2 separate regions of the Homo sapiens genome follow, and region 1 is linked to region 2. Evidence: fine-mapped expression QTL. A gene starts in region 2. The other region holds a variant in brackets. All regions are shown on one strand. Distances are from middle to middle. Region 1 has its middle 69 kb from the start of KIF2A. Region 2 holds the start of KIF2A (kinesin family member 2A).

What was found. PIP is the estimated chance that this variant, and not a neighbour inherited with it, causes the effect. A credible set is the group of variants that fine-mapping cannot tell apart.
Region 1: its variant is the best candidate, but not a certain one, in a credible set for the expression of KIF2A in gastroesophageal junction (GTEx, PIP 0.77).

Annotation. Positions count from the first base shown.
Region 1 is chr5:62,235,319-62,238,225 of GRCh38, reverse strand. No RefSeq gene overlaps it. Among named protein-coding and RNA genes, the nearest start is that of KIF2A, 69 kb to the left of the region's middle. RefSeq lists enhancers at 909-1,408, 1,656-1,855, 1,409-1,910. The variant C/G (reference allele first, on the strand shown) is at 1,272.
Region 2 is chr5:62,304,743-62,307,649 of GRCh38, reverse strand. It overlaps KIF2A (kinesin family member 2A), which reads right to left and starts at 1,444. Exons shown (of 21, transcript NM_001098511.3): 1 at 1,114-1,444. The coding sequence starts at 1,177. RefSeq lists a silencer at 711-1,740.

The DNA of each region.
Region 1 (2,907 bases), 69 kb after region 2:
CAGTCACATCCCATCTTTACATTTCTCCCAGTACCTTCTGGTCCTATCAGTTCAATGTCATGCTGAGGATATAAAGGCCGAGGGACAAATGTGGCAGGGGATGGGTTCAATTTATCTGATGCAACCCTGCTGAAATTGTCTTTTTCTACAGACATTTTATCAAGTCATAGGAGAGTTTAACTTTCTCTCTTTCCTAATTAGTTCTATGAACTTATCTATTTTCCTCATATTTTCTAACCCAGTCCTGGAGAGAAATTTGACCTTTATAATGACTACAATATATCAAGTACTTATGATATGCCAGGTAAAATGCTAAATATTACATGTATTATTATAATTATTTGAGACAGGGTCTCACTCCTGTCTCCCAGACTGGAGTGTAGTGGTACCGTCTTGGCTCACAGCAGCCTCAAATTTCAAAGTTCAGGTGATCCTCCCACCTCAGGCCCCCGAGTAGCTGGGACTACAGGCAAGTGCCACCATGCCTGCCTGGTGTGTGTGTGTGTGTGTGTGTGTGTGTGTGTGTGTGTATTTTTGGTAGAGATGGCGTTTCACCATGTTGCTAGGGTGGTCAAACTCCTGGGCTCAAGCAATCCACTCACCTCAGCCTCCCAAAGTGCTGGGATTACAGGCGTGAGCCACCGTGCCTGGCCTGTGATACATATTATTGCATTGAATCCCCAAGTAAGTTAGAGATTCTTAGTCTCTCTACAGTTAAGGAAACCAAGGCTCAGCAGGATCATACAGCAAGATTTCCCCTGACTGCATGGCTAGTAAGTGTTGAGGCTGAGATTCTAACTGAGGTCTATCTCATGGAAAACCCACGCTCACAGCCACTGTGCTGTGTGCTCTTCCTGTCTGGATGTGGTCCTTGTCAGGGTACCTCAGTGTTCTCAAGAGGCACCTCTGGCTTCTGAGATGTAGACAGAAACATCTAGGTATTAGGTTGGTGCAAAAGTAATTGCAGTTTTTGCCATTAAAAGTATGTTTAAGAATTAACATCCCGAATGAAAGGTACTTGAAGTTTAAGCCACTCTGATTACTAATACGATACATAGTGTAGTAGTAACGTATGCCTGAGACCCAGCCTAATATTCTTCTTTGAATTCACACTTAACACTCACTCACACAACCAATTTTATTGAAGCTCTCTTTGTGCAAGAAAGTCCACTTTGAAACTAGAGTTCTCCAGGGAAACAAAAGCCTCCTTAGAAACAATGTTGGAATCTGGATTGCTGTGGAAGAAACTTAAAAAGCTTGAGTCCCTTCCA[C/G]TTCTATTCTTGGATGGGTTTTGGCTCCTAGCTGGTTCAGAAATTCTTTATCCTCATTTAGATTCTCTAAGGGAGTGGCTCATTCCAGCCCAGCGCAGCCTCATTCTGCCCATAGCAGGTTTCCACCCTGGCTCTGCTCCCCCGCAGGGCGAGCACCAGGAGGGGACAGCTGCTGGGCCCACTTTGCATAGGGGCATGTATGACCCAGGCAGGGCTGACTCTCTGCGGAAAAACCTCAGGGCTGCTTTCTGGCTTTAGTCATATTCGTTAGATGAAACTTGTGGGTGTTACTAAGACATTCTGCGCCCTGAAATTGGGAGTGGTTTTGAAAACTGGTCTCAACTATTAGATTCCGAACCACTAAGCTTCCACATTTACTGACAGTTATATGCAGCAAAGAAGTTTTTCTCATTGCCTGCTTTTCTATCCTTCTATGTGCAAACACTATGTATCTTATTAGTATTTAGAGTGGCTTAAACTTCAAGTACCTTTCATTAGGGATGTTAATTCTTAAATATACTTTTAATGGCAAAAACCGCAATTACTTTTGCACCAACCTAAAACCTAGATGTTTCTGTCTACATAGTCAGATAGTGAGTGGAGGCAGTGCAAGAGATGTCAGTTTTGCAGCTTGCTTTTCTTCAGTTCCTTGCATCAGATTCTGTTCTCTGTTCTGATTCTCTTTTCAGACACCTGTTTCTCCTCGTTTTCTAGTTTCTGGTAGTATTACCTCGGAATCTAGAACTAACCCCCGAGTGCTCCTTGGCTGAGAGCACTTCAATACCTAATGGATGATAACAGGATCTAACATGGAGTTGTGGGGAAATCATGGACACAGGATTTATTTATTTAATAAATATATTTATTGTCACTACATGGAGAGTACACCAACTCACCTCTGGATGAGTGGGGAAACTGCTGTTATGAGGTCATTTCCCCAAAATGACTCTTTTGTTATCATGTCAGGGTGGCTTTACTTCCACCATTAGTTGCTTCTTTTTTTTTTTTTTTTTTTTTTTTGAGATGGAATCTCGCTCTGTTGCTCAGACTGGAGTGCAGTTGCGTGATCTTGGCTCACTGCAACCTCCGCCTCCTGGGTTCAAGTGATTCTTGTGCCTTAGCCTCCCAAATAGCTGGGACTACAGGCATGCACCACCACGCCCGGCTAATTTTTGTATTTTTAGTAGAGACAGGGTTTCACCATGTTGGCCAGGCTGGCTGGTACTCGTGACCTTAAGGGATCTGCCTATCCTGGCTTCCCAAAGTGCTGGGATTACAGGTGTGAGCCACCGTGTTCAGCCTGCTTCCTTTTTTAAAACCAATTTTTTCCTATGCTGGTATTCAAGGAAATGTTACTAAGCATACAGTAAAAGGTGCTCAAAGTGCACATAAACCTGGGACATGTTGGAGTTAAACGAAACTAAATAGTTTTCTTAGCTGCAGGCTGCCCAGAGCCTGCAACATGCGAATGTGTGTCATAATTGTTCACAAAGGGCTCCATCATGTTAAGCATTTCCTAGTTATTTGACCATAGAACTTCTTTTTTCATAGTTAAGTCTATTAATAGCTCCTAGAACAGAGTTCCAACGATCATTGTGTGATGAACACTGAAGATCTTTTTCAAAAGCTTTGAAGG
Region 2 (2,907 bases):
CGTCTCAAAAAAAAAAAAAAAGGAATCGGTATGAGAGATGGAGTCAGGAACACTGCTCAACTCGAGATTATCACACATCTCTCGTTCTTTCAATATTGGTACCGAAAGAAAATAATTTTACTTATCTCCCTCCGTGCATTTATTCCTTTACAATATGAATTATTTCCAGTCTGGCTGGCGTATCTCACTCCACACCCCAAGCTAGTGTCATAAACCATTTTCCCCAAGAGAAACCTAGAGAAAGATACATAAGCCTAAGGCTCTTAAAAAAAAAAATGAAGCATGTGTCTTCACCTCGCCTTACACTTTTCTCAGTTACCTCTCCCGAGGGTGTGAAAATATCAACATCCGGTCGCCCACCCCCACTCTCTCAGCAGTGCCTCGCATTGACTCTGCCCATCCCCTATCATTCCCTTTACAGTCTCATCACCTTGGAGAAGCCCATCGAATATTTCTTCCCATTGCTCCCCCACCCTTATTCATGGCTCAGCGCGATATTCTCCACATTTTTCTCCCAAGAAGTGGCAAAAAAGAAAGCAGCATGGTCGACGACGAAACCGGGGAGGCCTGACAACCAGACGGCAGTTTAAGGCGACGGAACTGGCTCTTTCCCCCCATCTCGGCCTCCGACCAGCAGTCGGTTCTCTAAATGTGAAATCGCTGGTCTTCCCGCTCCCCCACCCCCATCCCCATCCCCGTCAGAGGCCAAGCCGGTAAAATGCAAAGACCAAGGGGAAGCGCGAGGCAGGGTCATCCCTAACGAAGCCCGCTCCCTCCCGGGCTGGTGTCCCCGGGGGGGGGCTGGAGATTGCGGGAGGAGGAGCGAGCGGCCCTCGCCCAGAGACCCCCGGAGACGCGACCCTCGACACCCGGGCCCTTTCCCCACCCGGCTTCCCTCCCCCGCGGCCCGATCCGGAGAACTGCAGCAGCGCCCGGGCGGACCCCAAGCCGGCCTCACTGGCACACACGCCACACACAAAAGCGCCGCGGCCGCCGCCTTCCCACCCCCACAGCCCGGCGAAGCAATCAATGAGGCGGCCGGCGCCCGCGTCCCCTCCGTGCACACCCGAACACGGGGCCGAGCGGGCCAGCGGGGCTGGCAGCGCGGCTCACCATCGCTGCGCTTGATCTCCACGTAAATCCCGATCTGGATCTTGCCGAAGTTGGCCGTTGCCATCACCTCATCTGGAGCAGCAGCAGCGGGCCGAGGGAGGGGGACCGGAGGGCGGAAAAGGCGGGGAGGGGGCGGGGTAGGTGTGGGAGGGGGAGCGGTTGCCCGCGGCCGCGCCGGCCCGGGCGACAGCGTGAACGCAAGCGGGGCCGCAAGGAGCAGCTGTGGGGAAGCAGGCGGAGGCCCCGGGCCTGCAGGCCGGCAGGAGGACGCGCACGCCGGGTAGTCGGGGTGAAGCTAGGGCCGGGGCCGTGAGACGGCGCGGGGTAGAGTGGGAGGGCCCGCACCGCCCGCCGGGGAGCCGACGCTGGGGAGGCGGGGCGCCGCGCGCCTGCGCAGAGCGCGCCTCCGGCGTCTCTTCTTCCTTTTCGGCTGGCCTCTCCCCGCTGCCTCCAGGCGGCCCCGCCCAGCTCTGCAGCGGGGTGGGCGGCGGCCGCGGCTTACCCAGCCGCTGGAGCGTTGAGCGCTCGGCCCGGCCCACAGCTAGCCGGCGTCGCGTTTGATTTCAGCGCGCGGCCTAGAAGACGCGGGAAGCGTCGCGCCGAGCTTTCTTGCCCTCTCGCTTCCGGGAATTGGCGCTGTTGCCGGAATGGGTTAAAGGCCACGTGGTTTCAGGGGCTTTCTAGCGGGCTGAGGGATGTGAATTCAAGGGCCCTCCGTTGACAGTACGGGATCCGGGTTTTCATCGGAAGGTGGCACCCCCTATTTCCACTTACAGGTAGCTGACCCAAGCAGCCCTCCCAAGCACACTTGGTGTAGGTTTCCCATCCAGTTACGCTGGAAGGGAAGAAACACCCTTGAGGTGTCACCTACCCTAAATCGAAATGAAGATCCACCCCTTTACAGTCTTGCCTTATAGTTTATCACACTCAGAAAGAAGCTCTGTGGTGGGGCGTCCTTAACTGTTCAGGTTATGAGGCATCCGATGCTGGTGCCCTGTTTCTGCTGAGGGTTCAAGACTTACTTGCCTTGGCCTGTAAAGCCAACAACTGTGACTCAAGGGAAGAAGGCAGACACATAAGGTTGACTAGGGAATGTGTCTTTTTGCAATAATTTAATTAGTCTGACCACATCAGCAATGTGGAAAGCAAGACTCTCCATCCTGGCAGAGCAGGAAGGCCACGTGTACCGGGGCCCTGGAAACTGTATTTATAGCACCGTGTGAAAACCTCCAAACGTCTAACTCCTGCTTGTAGTACTGGCAATTGATAGGTTGGAAACAACACTTTTCATGGCCTACTTTCCCTAGTCATTGTTTTTTGTTGTTGTTGTTTTGTTTTGTTTGTTTTTGAGGGGGAGTCTTGCTCTGTCGCTCAGGCTGGAGTGCAGTGGCGCGATCTCCGCTCACTGCAATCTCTGCCTCCTGTGTTCAAGCGATTCTCACGCCTCAGCCTTCCGAGTAGGTGGGATTACAGGCCCGCGCCACCACGCCTGGCTAATTTTTGTATTTTTAGTAGAGACGGGGTTTCACCATGTTGGCCAGGCTGGTCTCAAACTCCTGACCTCAGGTAATCCACCCGCCTCCACCACCCAGAGTGCTGAGATTACAGGCATGAGCCACTGCGCCCGGCCTTCCCTAGTCATTGATAATCTCCCTGTAACAATAACTACAAATATACAATTTAAAATTTTAAAATTGGAAACTGGATATATACATCAATGCTTATGTGGATATATGTGTGCCTAGAGTTTTCTATCTAATGTAAGTAATCATGTAGGTCCTTAAAAAACTGTTA